Linked DNA regions of Homo sapiens: region 2 is linked to region 1. Evidence: fine-mapped expression QTL. Tissue or cell type: monocytes after LPS. Region 1 holds a variant in brackets; the other region holds the start of a gene. All regions are shown on one strand. Distances are between the middles of the regions.

The links. PIP is the estimated chance that this variant, and not a neighbour inherited with it, causes the effect.
Region 2: it holds the start of LRAT, and the variant in region 1 is fine-mapped to the expression of LRAT in monocytes after LPS (Fairfax 2014, PIP 0.95).

Annotation. Positions count from the first base shown.
Region 1 is chr4:155,014,943-155,023,002 of GRCh38, reverse strand. No RefSeq gene overlaps it. Among named protein-coding and RNA genes, the nearest start is that of NPY2R-AS1, 190 kb to the left of the region's middle. The variant C/T (reference allele first, on the strand shown) is at 3,000.
Region 2 is chr4:154,739,376-154,747,435 of GRCh38, reverse strand. It overlaps LRAT (lecithin retinol acyltransferase), which reads right to left and starts at 3,436. Exons shown (of 3, transcript NM_004744.5): 1 at 3,214-3,436; 2 at 2,570-3,110. The coding sequence starts at 3,109. RefSeq lists enhancers at 4,085-4,597, 4,598-5,109, 5,110-5,623.

The DNA.
Region 1 (8,060 bases):
CGTTGAGCAGTGGTTTGTAGTTCTCCTTGAATTGGTCCTTCACTTCCCTTGTAAGTTGGATTCCTAGGTATTTTATTCTCTTTGAAGTAATTGTGAATGGGAGTTCACTCATGATTCGGCTCTCTGTTTGTCTGTTATTGGTGTATAAGAATGCTTGTGATTTTTGCACATTGATTTTGTATCCTGAGACTTTGCTGAAGTTGCCTATCAGCTTAAGGAGATTTGGGGCTGAGCTGAGACAATGGGGTTTTCTAGATATACAATCATGTAATCTGCAAACAGGGACAATTTGACTTCTTCTTTTCCTAAGAATACCTTTTATTTCTTTCTCCTGCCTGATTGCCCTGGCCAGAACTTCCAACACTATGTTGAATAGGAGTGGTGAGAGAGGGCATCCCTGTCTTGTGCCAGTTTTCAAAGGAAATGCTTCCAGTTTTTGCCCATTTAGTATGATATTGGCTGTGGGTTTGTCATAAATAGCTCTTATTATCTTGAGATACGTCCCATCAATACCTAATTTATTGAGAGTTTTTAGCATGAAGGGCTGTTGAATTTTGTCAAAGGCCTTTTCTGCATCTATTGAGATAATCATGTGGTTTTTGTTGTTGGTTCTGTTTATATGCTGGATTACATTTATTGATTTGCATATATTGACCTAGCCTTGCATCCCAGGGATGAAGCCCACTTGATCATGGTGGATAAGCTTTTTGATGTGCTGCTGGATTCAGTTTGCCAGTATTTTATTGAGGATTTTTGCATCGATGTTCATCAGGGATATTGGTCTAAAATTCCGTTTTTTGGTTGTGTCTCTGCCAGCCTTTGGTAGCAGGATGATGCTGGCCTCATAAAATGAGTTAGGGAGGATTCCCTCTTTTTCTATTGATTGGAATAGTTTCAGAAGGAATGGTACCAGTTCCTCCTTGTACCTCTGGTAGAATTCGGCTGTGAATCCGTCTGGTCCTGGACTTTTTTTGGTTGGTAAGCTATTAATTATTGCCTCAATTTCAGAGCCTGTTATTGGTCTATTCAGAGATTCAACTTCTTCCTGGTTTAGTCTTGGGAGGGTGTATGTGTCAAGGAATTTACCCATTTCTTCTAGATTTTCTAGGTTATTTGCATAGAGGTGTTTATAGTATTCTCTGATGGTAGTTTGTATTTCTGTGGGATCAGTGGTGATATCCCCTTTAACATTTTTTATTGCATCTATTTGATTCTTCTCTCTTTTCTTCTTTATTAGTCTTGCTAGCGGTCTATCAATTTTGTTGATCTTTTCAAAAAACCAGCCAAGCACAAGGGGTCAGGGAATTCCCTTTCCTAGCCAAGCAAAGCTGTGACAGACAGCACCTGGAAAATTGGGTCACTCCCACCCTAATACTGCACTTTTCCAGTGATCTTAGCAAATGGCACACCAGGAGATTATATCCCACTCCTGGCTCAAAGGGTCCCACATCCACAGAGCCTCACTCATTGCTAGCACACAGTCTGAGATGGAACTGCAAGGGGCCAGTGAGGCTCGGGGAGGGGTGCCCACCATTGCTAAGGCTTGAGTAGGTAAACAAAGCGGCCAGGAAGCTCGAACTGGGTGGAGCCCACCACAGCTCAAGGAGGCCTACCTGCCTTAGTAGAGTCCACCTCTGGGGGCAGGGCATAGCCGAACAAAAGGCAGCAGAAACCTCTGCAGACTTAAAAGTACCTGTCTGACAGCTTTGGAGAGAGTAGTGGTTCTCCCAGCATGGAGTTTAAGATCTGAGAATGGACAGACTGCCTCCTCAAGTGGGTCCCTGACCCCCAAGTAGCCTATCTGGGAGGCACCCCCAAGTAGGAGCCGACTGACAACCCACGGCCGGGTACCCCACTGAAACGAAGCTTCCAGAGGAGTGATCAGGCAGCAACATTTGCTGTTCAGCAATATTCAATGTTCTGCAGCCTCCACTGCTGATAGCCAGGCAAACAGTGTCTGGAGTGGACCTCCAGCAAACTCCAACAGACCTGCAGCTGAGGGTCCTGACTGTTAGAAGGAAAACTAACAAACAGGAAGGACATCCACACCAAAATCCCATGTGTACGTCACCATCATCAAAGAGCAAAGGTAGATAAAACCACAGAGATGGGGAGAAAACAGAGCAGAAAAACTGAAAATTCTAAAAATCAGAGCACCTCTCCTCCTCCAAAGGAATGCAGCTCCTCACCAGCAACGGAACAAAGCTGGATGGAGAATGACTTTCACGAGTTGAGAGAAGAAGGCTTCAGATGATCAAACTTCTCCGAGCTAAAGGAGGAAGTTTGAACCCATTGCAAAGGAGTTAAAAACCTTGAAAAAGATTAGACGAATGACTAACTGGAATAACCAATGTAGAGAAGTCCTTAAATGACATGGTGGAGCTGAAAACCATGGCATGAGAACTACATGATGAATGCACAAGCCTCAGTAGCCGATTCGATCAACTGGAAGAAAGGGTTATCAGTGATGGAAGATCAAATGAATGAAATGAAGTGAGAAGAGAAGTTTAGAGAAAAAAGAATAAAAAGAAACGAACAAAGCCTCCAAGAAATATAGGAGTATGTGAAAAGACCAAATCTATGTCTGACTGGTGTACCTCAAAGTGACGGGGAGAATGGAACCAAGTTGGAGAACACTCTGCAGGATATTATACAAGGGAACTTCCCCAACCTAGCAAGGCAGGCCAACATTCAAATTCAGGAAATACAGAGAACACCACAAAGATACTCGTCGAGAAGAGTAACTCCAAGACACATAATTGTCAGATTCACCAAAGTTGAAATGAAGGAAAATATGTTAAGGGCAGCCAGAGAGAAAGGTCGGGTTACCCACAAAGGGAAGCCCATCAGACTAACGGCTGATCTCTCAGCAGAAACTCTACAAGCCAGAAGAGAGTGGGGGCCAATATTCAACATTCTTAAAGAAAAGAATTTTCAACCCAGAATTTCTTATCCAGCCAAATTAAGCTTCATAAATGAAGGAGAAATAAAATCCTTTA[C/T]AGACAAGCAAATGCTGAGAGATTTTGTCACCACCAGGCCTGCCCTACAAGAGCTCCTGAAGGAAGCACTAAACATGGAAAGGAACAACCAGTACTAGCCACTGCAAAAACATGCCAAATTGTAAAGACCATCGAGACTAGAAAGAAACTGCATCAACTAACGAGCAAAATAACCAGCTAACATCATAATGACAGGATCAAATTCACACATAACAATATTAACCTTAAATGTAAATGGGCTAAATGCTCCAATTAAAAGACACAGACTGGCAAATTGGATAAAGAGTCAAGACCCATCAGTGTGCTGTATTCAGAAAACCCATCTCATGTGCAGAGACACACATAGGCTCAAAATAAAGGGATGGAGGAAGATCTACCAAGCAAATGGAAAACAAAAAAAAGGCAGGGGTTGCAATCCTAGTCTCTGATAAAACAGACTTTAAACCAACGAAGATCAAAAGAGACAAAGAAGGCCATTACATAATGGTAAAGGGCTCAATTCAACAAGAAGAGCTAACTATCCTAAATAGATATGCACCCAATACAGAAGCACCCAGATTCATAAAGCAAGTCCTTAGAGACCTAGAAAGAGACTTAGACTCCCACACAATAATAATGGGAGACTTTAATATCCCACCGTCAACATTAGACAGATCAACAAGACAGAAAGTTAACAAGGATATCCAGGAATTGAACTCAGCTCTGCACCAAGCAGACCTAATAGACATCTACAGAACTCTCCACCCCAAATCAACAGAATATACATTCTTCTCAGCACCACACTGCACTTATTCCAAAATCGACCACATCGTTGGAAGTAAAGCTCTCCTCAGCAAATGTAAAAGAACAGAAATTATAACAAACTGTCTCTCAGACCACAGTGCAATCAAACTAGAACTCAGGAGTAAGAAACTCACTCAAAACCACTCAACTGCATGGAAACTGAACAACCTCCTCCTGGATGACTACTGGGTACATAAGGAAATGAAGGCAGAAATAAAGATGTTCTTTGAAACCAATGAGAACAAAGACACAACATACCATAATCTCTGGGACACATTCAAAGCAGTGTGTAGAGGGAAATTTATAGCACTAAATGCCCACAAGAGAAAGCAGGAAAGATCTAAAATTGACACCCTAACATCACAATTAAAAGAACTAGAGAAGCAAGAGCAAACACATTCAAAAGCTAGCAGAAGGCAAGAAATAACTAAGATCAGAGCAGAACTGAAGGAGATACAGATATAAAAAACCCTTCACTATATGCACTTTAAAGTAGAAATCCCATTATCTTTTTCTATGATTTAATATTAACATATGAATTAATGTCATCCTATTTAGCCCAGTATCCCTTATCTTGGAGAAAATGCAAAGGCCTCCCTAAGATTTCTGTTAATTTTCAGTGCTTTCCAACCTGCCGGTCATCTCTAGTGCTGAGTTCCTTCTGCAGAGTTCTAAACCTCATTCACACATTATTCCCAGCAATTATCTTGTTCTACTTGCTCCACACTAATCTAGGCTTCAAAGTCAGCTCATTTCCTTCGTATTTCTGAACACCATCCTCCCAAAGATAGCCTGCACTGGACATACAGGTGTGTGCCAAACTTCACTATTTGGAAAGATAGAGAATTATATCTCAAAATATCCTTCAAATTGAATATTATTATCTGTTAGGAAAAATGACAAAAGATTTGGAAACGGGCAAAACCAATTACGGAGTGTCCTCTCAGTGCAATTCTAGGCATCTAGGAGCAGTCTCCAGGAATTGTCTGAATCCTTAGAGGTGTGGATCTCGGATTGTCTTTCTATTGACTAGGCTATTTTAGGAGTCTGTGAGAGGGAGTAGTAATTAAGATGTAGAAACAGAGTAATGCAAATAATTCTTGTTCAAAGAAACATTTAAATGTTGACTAGTAGAAATATAATTAATTTCATCATGCAGAAGAGATGCCAAACATTATAATATTTTGCATATATATTATTGTCCTATAGGATATTTACCAGTTTTGCATCTTAGCAAAATGATTTCTGCATTCCTCATTGCGTGTGTGTGTGTGTGTGTGTGTGTGTGTGTGTGTATGTGTGTTCCTCAAATTTTGCTTTGAACTGGTTTTTACGTCTTACTGGTTTCATGAAGAAGTTAAATACAATCTTTCATATGTGCTCATTTTATATTTGTATAAGAAACATGATTTTACTTATAACACATCCCTATTCTTAGTAGTCACCATCCACACTGCTAGACATTTCTCACTCTTCAACTTTCTCCAAAGGTTCCAGCCTTTTGCTATGTTCCTTGGCTTCCTTCACTTTCCTTTTTGCTCTGATGGACACCATTTCCAAATTCCCACATTCCTTCCTCTTCTTAGGGAAAAAAGCTTGGTTCCTTTACTGTTTCATAATCTCCTTGTGAATCATGCCCTTGGAACTTTATCTTCTCCCCATACATTGACCTGAACAGAGAAGTTTGATTCTTAAGATGAATTCTACTGCCAGCCTGTTGAAACTGTATCTTTAATCTTCCTTAGGGTGTGTGCATGAGTTTGAGTGTGTGTCTGTGTATGTAAGAGAGGGCAGAGAGACTAATTTTAATTGAGGTATAGAACCTTCAAAATGAAAAGAAGTCTTCAGAAAGAAGCTAGTTTGATTCTAGATGTATTAAGTATTTTTGTGCCTGGCCTTGAAGGTAGAGATGAACAAGAGACGGCTGGAAATTTTGACCTAGAATTATCACTCTGCAATGTTAAATTGGTTCAATCATGTCATATATGAGAGGTTCTAGCTAATTTTATTAGTATAAAAACAGTGATTTATGTTCTCTTTTTTAAATAATTTTGCTATCACTTCCCCAAGGGATAGAGTATGAAAACATAAATTCTAAAATTCATTGCTCTATCATTATGAAATGTCTGAAATTAAAAGATATTCTATTTGAGATGATGGATATGCTAACTACCCTGGTCTGATCACTTTATGTATTGAAACATCAGTGTGTACTCCATAAATATGTACCATTGTTATACATCAATTAAAGAACAATATTATAAAAAGCGTATCCTATAATAGGTGTGGCAGTGTGAGTGACATTACCCTACATTGTTTGCAAAGGAGTCAGCATCCTCCTAACTTTTGGGGTTTCTCAAGGCAATGTATTACTCCAGCACATCAGTTCACCGAACTGATGTTTCAATCTACCAGATCACCAAAAGTAACCTAGATACTTCAAATTTTCTTCTTCTGTTCGTAGAGGGCAAATATTTTCCCCATCTTCTCTCCACATCCCTGCTTAGACTCCTAAAGGAGGAAGCTTCTGACCAAACTTCCGCCTCCAGGAGAAGTACTTCCCTGGGGCTTCCTCTTGTCTCTGCATCCTGTTTTTCACTGAGAACAAAGCAGCTGAGTGATATTAAGCAAGATAACTGGTTTAGGAAAATAGACAACTACAGATGAAATATTAATTGAATTATGACTTTTTCTGACTCATTTCTTTACAAATGATAACAATTCTTGGTTCTCAGTTTTGGCATTTCCAGCTGCAATATGCATCTTAAAAAGAAAAAGAAATGATTGTCTCTTTCTGCCCTCCCTCTGCTCATGCCCTCACTATGATGGGCTTTTAAATGAGTGATGAGGGCCACAGGAGCTCGGCTTCCTGGGTGTCAACAACCCTGATGGCTCACATGGTGCCGAGATGCCTAAGTTAGCAAAAGGATGAACAGTCCAGCTGTAATCCCTCACATAGTATGTGGAAGGCTCTTGCTTGTATTATTACTGGGCTATGAGATAATTAGCCGATTTCTAAAGCATATCCTGTGCATTTTGTCCATTCAAAAAAAAATGTGTATTTTCCTCTCCTCTCCCTCTATCCTTTCAAGTGTCTAATAGTTTAGGAGAGTAAAAGTAACTTGACTTTCTGCCCCTCTCCCTGGGCCAGCCTGCCTCCTCCATCCAGTGCAGGGTCCCTGGAGTACTGCATCCCCATCTTCCTGCTGCATCTCTGCAACTCAGCAGCACTTATTAGCTACAGCACTTATTAGCTACAAAATAATTTCTTCTGGGGTACAGTTAGGAAGATTTTTTTTCAAACAACTGACAGCAACTGTGTTCTGCCTACCTCCAAACTTCCTGCCAAGTAGCAGACTCTATTTTAGATATTCCAATCTGATTCCATAACTTTTTACTTTTTTTAAGTATTAACTATTGCATTTTCGTCACTAAGACTTAGTCCCGACCATTTTTAAACTTCGGTTTCAAATCTGAATCAAGCTGACTCTACCATCCCCTTCTCCTTCGCCCCTCTTATGGAGGATTGAGTTTGGGGTGAAGTGGGAAGGGCTGTCTTTCATACCCCTTTCTTTCTTACACTGGTTACTCTGGTGTTGGGGAGGAGAGTGGAAAAAGCCGTTTTGTTTCACGTCAGTTACTTTCTTGGAGTAACTCTCTTTTTCTTTGTTGGTCATAAACAACCTTCCATCAGTGGTAGTCAGTTGCTCTTCTTGTTCTGTTGATGACCATCAGGGATCTGGCTTGTTGTCTCCAGACTCCCGTGGATGAGTACAGGCCCCAGAAGACCTTGCTGGTATGAAACTCAGTCTCAAACTCTCCCCCTAAAATCAGTGGTCCCTTGCAAGATTCAACTATATTTTGAAGCAGTCCCAACCAGAAGCCCCTGCCACATTCCTCTGGCATTTGAACCACACTACTGCACACTGACTTGGTCCCAGTGAACTTTTATCACTTAGTATCATCAATTTCTTGTCACCCTAATTTCAGGGCTCTGGTACCAGGTAGATGCCATAGTTTGTATTCTTTGGGAAATAGAAATTCAAGAGGGCAGTCTCTCTCTGACCAGGATGCTCTTTCTGCAGTTCTGGGAGCACGGGAGCAAGTCAACAAGACCTGCACTTAAGTGGTCATCCAATCTGGTTATAAGACATAGCGGGAGAGAGAATAGTGGCTCTTCAAATATATTCACATCCTTATCCCCAGAACCTGCGTATATGTTACTTTAAATGGCAAAAGGTATTTTGCAGATGTGATAAAATTAAAGAGTTTGAGATA
Region 2 (8,060 bases), 280 kb after region 1:
AGGGGCATTTGCAATCATTTTTGGCAATGAAAGAGCAGTATTAACAAAGTAAAAAAAAATCATAGTAGAAAAAGCATAAGGAATAGTAATAGTTATTAACCAAAGGAATTTTTAGTTTACAAAATACTGATTGTCAACAGTATTATAAAAATCCCATTATTTTATGACTTCTAAACTTGTAAAATAGAGTGTTACCACAAAGGAGTAAATGTTCTTTTCCAGTTCATTCATTTGCAAACTAATTGCAGTGTTTTCCTTAGGGGTAGTGTGTTCTTGAGAGTTTTTATTAACTCAAATTTAAGTAAGAGGCAACTTTGTAACTCTCATGTTAATATTAGTTGCATATATGGAGAACTCAGCAATCAGACCCAGAATCAAATAATTTCTTATGTTTCTAAAAAGTAGAAACCAGTCCTTCCTTCAGTATTAATGACCTACTTCTCTCAGTGCATGTTCAAAAACAGTTTGTAGAATTAGGAAATTTGGGATGAAAACTTTTTTTTTTCCCCCGGGAAATCTACTCTGTGGCCAAATTGTTTGTTAGACCATTCAAAGTGAAGACAAAACTCAGTTTCACAAGAGGTGCTATGCAGCAACAGCAATTAAAACACTTCTCTACTTCTGTAGACCCTAACAAAGTTTCCAAAGATGAAAAACTACTCCAACTAGTTATTTATGCAGATTAAATATTTTACTACCTTACAAAAGCACTAGTTACTGTTTTTCTGTAGAAATATATAATGCAGCGCTATATGTGTTCCATGAAAGGGTAACTCCTAATTACCTGATAGAAATACTGTTTTTCCTTAGAGAAATGATTTGCTTGGTTCCTAAGTAAATCTGACATGTTTCCTTTTGTACACTTTGGGAGCCCGTGTTTGTAAATGTGGTGGAGTTCATTTCTAAACAGGCCTGGACTAGAGCTGTGATTCTTGAATCGCTGCACAGTGCTCTAACTGTATTTTTATTTTACTTGGAAAAGAATTCCTAGATTGAGTCTTTTGTGGCTCTATAAAATCTATAAGGAGTTTCATACACCGATCTATAAAAGCAAAATACTTCCATGCTCTCCCACAGAGGATAGAGAAAGATGTTCCCAAATGGGTCAAAAAAATTAACCAAGATGTGGAGCAATTAAAAACTGGTTACATGAAAAAAACTGACTTAGCTTTTTCTGGTCCCAAAAATATCTAAACATGAAGAGTAACACTAAAGCTCATATGTTATTGCCCAGGTTTCCATTATAAAGACTGAACATTAACAATGACTTCTTTAACAAGTGCAATGAAGGCTGAGAAAGTTTCCAATTGTAAGTGAAGTTTCAGGCTTAAAATCTTAACTATTTTTAAAAGTTAAGAGGTTTTAAAAGGAAATAAAAATCCATTTTTCCCTTTGGATTTGTGGCTAATTTAATAATCATGAGTATTTTTTCAAAATACTCATAAAAATTACCTTCCAATGTTTAACATCTCTTCTTGAAAACTAATTGTATTGATCTCTGGGGAACCCATAAACAATGTAATCTACCTTCAGGGCTAATGGGTAAAGGATGCTTAACAATGAAGTCTAGATGAGGATCAAAGCCAACCCAGAAAGAATTCAGAATACCATGGAAAATACAACTCTGAAGCACCAACACAAAGAATAAGGGAACTACCAGGGGGGCCCTCTTACTGGGAATTTTGATAGCTTATAGCAAGCAATGAAAAATCCCTCTATGCAGCTTTCAAAGGGAGAAAACTGCATGGTTCCTTATTTTAAAGGCACACACTTTGTTTATAGTGTTATGGATTAAATATAAACTCTGGACCTCTTCCTTTCAAGTGAAATTCTTGGTTAAAGTTGCAAGCAGCGGTGACTGATTCCTTGTATCCCCCACCCCCAGTCACTTGCCCTTTGTCGTTTGAACTACACTGTGGGTGGACACCTGATGACTTCTGCAGCAATACTGGGCAGCTCTGGAATCTCTGGAAGCGGTCCTGCATTGCCACATCCTTTCTCTAAGCATTTCGAGATATCCTGCAAGGCACGTTGCCATTTGCTTATTTACTTAGCCTACCTTAGGAACACCAGAACTTTCCTTACTTAATCTAGAACTTTAAGAATGTTATGGAAGGCCGGGCACGGTGGCTCACGCCTGTAATCCCAGCACTTTGGGATGCTGAGGCGGGAGGATCACGAGGTCAGGAGATCGGGACCATCCTTGCTAATACGGTGAAACCCCATCTCTACTAAAAATACAAAAATAAATTAGCCGGGCGTGGTGGCGGGTGCCTGTAGTCCCAGCTACTCAGGAGGCTGAGGCAGGAGAATGGCGTGAACTCTGGAGGCGGAGTTTGCAGTGAGTGGAGATCGCGCCACTGCACTCCAGCCTGAGCAACAGAGCGAGACTCCGTCTCAAAAAAAAAAAAAAAAAAAAAAAAAAAAAAGGAAAAAGAAAAAGGATGGTATGGAAGTGGTAGGGGAGGTGTCCAGGAATTAGATCCCTACTCGCGGGGAAGAGAAAAGGTCAGGGATGGGAGGGGGCATCTCCGCGGAGCCCACTTCCCCTGGGAGTCACACATCATACCTTGTCGGACTGGGGACTGATCGGGGTGCCATATCTGCAGTAGGTCACGAAGTGCTCGCAGTTGTTCCACAGCAGGCTGTAGGGGGTAAAGCCCAGCAGCTTTTCAGCCCTCCGCGCCACCTCCTCGTTGAGCAGTGCCTTTTTCTGGAGGGACTCGTCCAGGTGATTGACCAGGATGTTAGCTCCGTAGGCGAAGTCCTCCACTGTGTCCACGCGGATGCTGGCCACTTTGACAATAACGCCCAGGATGAGACGCTTGTTGGAGACCACCTTCTGCGTGCGCCCCATGTCGTCTGTCAGGGCCAACAGGATGTCGGGCATCATGTGGGCAACACGGTTGTCTCCTAGGTAGATGCCATAGTGGGTCAGGTGGGTCCGGGGCACCTCCAGCACGTCGCCTCGGTGGAAAGAGCTGGTTTCATAAAAACTGTTCCTCCCTTTGTCTTCGCCCGCGGCGCCCGAACTAAAGAGCGTGAAGTTGGAGATGAGGAGCAGCTTCTCCAGTAGTAAAGACACCACCTCCAGCATGGGGTTCTTCATCCTGCAGGGAAGAGGGCGTCTTGGAGAGGTGCCGGTGCCACTCCGGCAGGGGCCGGGCTGGGCAAGTTAAGCTCGCCGGGCAGGGGTGCTGCGCTGCTGCTCACCTGCAGGCCAGGTGAGGTACGGCGCAAAGTACGGCCGCTGAGGAGAGAGGAAGGCAAAGGAGGACAGCGAGGCCTGGCGACCGGCTCAGCCAAGCCACAATGGGGAATGAGACGGATAAGGAACCGGTGGCTGACGGCGGGGACAGTGAGACCAGTGCTACAAGCAGCCGGAGAAGGAGCGCACCTGGGGGCCGTGCCGGGGGCAGGGCCGCGCGCGGTGCTCGGAGGTGCAGGCTTCGCTGCGACTTTTTATGGCCGTCGAGGGGGCGGAGCCGAAGGCCGTCACAGACCCGGAAAGCTCACTGATTGGGCGCCGCTGGCGCGCTGCGCTAGCGGCGGGGAGGACGCGGGATCCCGGTTTCTTTGGGAGGGGGGCGGGCCGACTCCCAGCTCCAGGGTTCTGCACAGTGATTCTTTATCGCCGCGGGATCCCGGTTGCACTACTGGCTTTTAAGTGGCCTATTTAGGGAGGTAGAGTCCCAAGGTGTGGCGGCACGAAAGGTCCTGCACCTGTCGGGACTGGGGCGAGTTCCTGGCACTTCGCGGTAGTCTTCGGTGGAAAGTCCTCTTGGGAGAGATTTCTGAGTTGGACCACCTTCCTCTAAAAGGATAGATATGAGGGACTTCGGCTTAATAAAGAGATTGCATTTACTTTGCAAAGTGCGAGCGCCTCGAATGCCTGCAGATTCTTTCCTGACCGAATCTTTCGTTTTGTTTTGTTTTGTTTTGAGACAGTGCCTTGCTCTATCACCCAGAGCAGGAGGGCGGTGGCGCGATCTGGGCTCACTGCAACCTCCGCCTCCCAGGTTCAAGCGATTCTCGTGCCTCAGCCTCCCAAGTAGCTGATATTACAGGCACCACGCCTGGCTAATTTTTGTATTTTTAGTAGACACGGGGTCTCACCATGTTGGCCAGGCTGGTGTTGGCCAGGCTGGTCTCGAACTCCTGACCTCAAGTGATCCGCCCTTCTGGACCTCCCAAACCGCTGGGATTACAGGCGTGAGCCACCGCGCCCAGCCCCTCTTTTTTCAAATGCCCTGAATCCTCCATGCTTTCAGCCGGCGCGAGGGTGTGTGTGTAGGGCGGGGGGGGGGGGGTTGGGGGGGTCGCTACCCGCGAGTCCAGTCCCTGCGCGCCGGTGATTTGAACCCGAGGCCTCTCTGCGCTCCTAGGCACCTGTGGCCGTTGAGTACGAAGCTTCCAACGGTTGGCATGAAAAACGGCGGGGTCCCAACGCCCGCCAGGAAAGCAAGATTCATGTTAAGTTTATTTCTCCGGCTTCAGGGTCACATGGACCCAGCTTCAGTTCACCCACCGAAACTTTGTCCGCCTCCCTTTATTTTTATTTTTATTTTTATTTTTATGTTTTTAAGCATAACCTCCCGGAGACGGCCAAGGAAGGCGAAGTACTTGGATGAGATGCTAAGTTCTTTGCCCGTGCGCCTGCAGCCCGACTCCAATGCCTCCTCGAGGGTGGTCCTAGGGAGCTGCCGGGTGAGGGAGCCGCTGAAGCGTTGGCCGCGCCAGGCTTGGCACGCGATGTCCCCACCGGGTGCTGAGTTCCGTGCTAATGCATTATGTAAATGCTTAAATTCTGCAGACAAAGGCCACAATGGAGAGCCTCGGGTGGCTCCACAAAGCTGCCCAGTCGGCGCTAATAGGTTTCATCAGCAGATTCTACGCACGCCTGAGGGTACTCTGCGGATGATGGATGAAGGAACATTCATTTTACCTGGAAGACGAAGGGGGCCATAGAGACCAGGCGTGAGGGAAAACGGCTCCCCATTATCCTTGGAGGCCGGGCCTTTGCTGCCACCCTCAATCTGCCGTCAGCGATCTGTCCCCGTCTCCCTGCTTGCCGGTGACTTTTGTTCATTCACAAACGATTGCGCATCACATTATAGTCCCAGCAAAGAGGAGAAAACTCCCACAAACGAGTCGAAAGAGGAAGTTGGAGAAGGGGAGAGAGCCAGTGGACGTGGAGATTTTTTTATTTTCCCAGTTTACTCCCAAAATTTAAAGAAAAGCGCCCAGGTGGCGAGTTGCTGAAACTCATCAGCTGCGCACAGGGAGCTTGCTAGCCTCTAGCAGCACAGCAGTCAGCACCCTTCGCTAAAATCGGGGGAGTCTGATAGACCTCGGTGTGTACGTTCAATGCAGACCCGACCTCACACTCTGAACTGGCTCCTCTGGGCCAGTTCTGGGAAAGCGCCAATACCGAAGCCTCTTGTGTCACGGGCCAAAGGGCCCCTGGAGATGAAAGGAAACGTGATAATTAACGGTTTCCGTCCCTGGTGGTCACTAAGGCGGCTTATAATGCTTATGACTGCCTCCACCTGGGGAACTTGAGGGAGACAAAAGCATGGAGAATTGCTTCAGGGCTCCACATAGCTATATACATATATATGAATTCTTTTATGTATATAAAAATATATACATATGTATACATTTTATATACATGAAAGAATTAGCTATAGACTCAATAGCCTTGTCCCACCGCGTTTTGGAAGACGCAAGCAGTGCCAAGCTGATTTGCGTTTCATTTTTCTTTTTCCCCCGGTGGGGTCCACTTTCTGGCCGCCTTCTTGGGAAAGGGCTTTACTTCAAAAAGAAAGGAGGTGAGAGCGATACGAGGCATGAATCTGTATAGGTGGCTCAAGATGCAGATACTCTGCTGCCATGGAAATGAATAGGGCGCGGAGTGTCCATAGTTTCTTGAAGGATATTTTTGCCTCTGATAAATTCCAATTTTTTAAGCCAGAACGTTATGCCATTAAGTGATTTATTTTGCTCAGTGGAATTGCCTGAAAGTAACCCTCTCCTGCTGCTCTGCGTGCTAGGACTTCGGCTTCCGGAAGCGACAGCCCGAAGGAGGCAGTGAAAAGTCTTCATTTGCCTTGTTTCTGAAGTCTTCCCAGAACTCTTATGCGGGAAGCGGTTAGCGATGATTAGGCAGCTTTTCAACTGCAAAAATATAGCGTGGAATGAGCTCCTCTCTCGGCTGGACTTCTCCCCGCCCCCGACCCCCCTTCGTCAAGGACCATTGCAAATTTACTTTGCAAAAGGCAGCTTCTCAATGTTCTCAAAATCTCATCTATTTCTGTGGTTGAGAGGTCAGTTTTTAATGGCTCCCTGGAGGCACACTTCATAAAAATACGTTTACACACTAATAGGCTTATGCCCCCAATAATATTTTCCTACCTGCCTCAATTTTAGCTAAACAAAGGGAAGACTATAGCTGTAGGTGGAAAGGCCCAAGAGAAATCTAACATTAGTTCTTCTAAATCAGAAGATGTCACATGGAGATAGGAGAAATTCCTCTACCCTGAGTAGCTGGAGAGACCTCTGGTTTCCCGGACCGTTAAGAAAGGTGGCTACATTCTGTGATAACGTTCTGCGTGCAAACGCCTTAAATACATGCGAATGCGTCACCAGGTCTGGCGGCGAGATTTAGAAAGAGCCTGGACTTTCCTGGTCAACACTCAGACAGACTGTGCTGAGCGGTCGACTCCCACTTTGGCCACCGCTTCCCCTACCCGCCTGCAGAAGAAGGAATGACAGCTACAGTGTCCCCGCAGGGTGGTCGGCCCCGGGGCAGCGCCCTCGCACCTGCCGCGCTCAGGCCCACGTCCATTTCCCCCAGTAACGCATACAGGCCAAGCAAGATCCGCTTGGGTCTCAGCGCAGAAGAGGCCGAAATTGAGGCTCACAGGTCCCAGCTTACTTCTGCACCTCATCTTCCCACGGCTACCTCACCAGAGGTCCCTGGAGAGTTTCTGTTCTTAAGAACTAGGACAGGGAAGAGGTGCAGAGTTCCACAGAAACCTAACGCCCTAGAAGGCTAACAGATTTCCCACCTGCAGGCTTTTTATCTCTGGATGCCCCCTGCTCCTCAGAGAAGTCTTTGGATGGAAGATATGATCACAGTATTAGTAATAATAATAACTAATATTTACGGTGTGCTTCCTGTGTATTAGGCACTGAACTAAGCATTTTCTTATTTAATCCTCATAACCCTATGAGGTATTATCTCCATTTTACACAGGAAGAAATTGAAGCTTATAACTTCGTCTAGTCAGTGTGCTAATGTGTGGGGATCAGGACTCAACCACAGGTCTCTTTTGCCCCAGGTCCTTTACCGTCACTGGGAAGGCCTGCCTTTCCATCAGTCTAACCACCCATTACACATCATTTATTGAATACCTGCTATATGGCAGGTGCTATGACCAACCCTAGAGGTTCAATAAAACACCTCACCCTAAACTTAGATCCCACAATTTCTTTGTAATCTGTAATTAATTTCCCCTCTTCTCTCATGTCACGAGGTCTAATTTTTAACATCATTTTACTGGGATAGTGAGAATAGAGCTGGTTAAGGTTCTGATTAATAGTATGCCATCACTAGGAAGGCTACAAAATCCTACACCCTCCTTAGGGTGTAGGATGAATCTGGGGTGGGGAAGTTCAATGTCTTACCCAAGGGCACAGAGTCAGGAGCAGAATGCAGGCCCAGTGTTCCAGACTTCATTATCTCAGATTTTCTTTTACTTGAGCTCTAGGCCTGAGAAATTTGGTTTTCTAAACTGCATGTTTTAAAATTCTTGTCCTTCTTAGGGATTATTTTGTTGTTCTTGGATTTTTTTAGATTACTAAATCATTGGGCTATAAATAATGATAATCTTAACATTTGTTTTTTTCTTAGCTATCCATCTATATTCAGTTCTTTTACAAATGTCCAGGTCTGGTCCCCTGGACATAAATAGGGGCCCTAACTAGCTAACTCCAAAGGTGTGGGGAAAACAAAGTTGTTTGTGAACTTTGTTCTGACAGCAGAGGAAAAGAAGCAG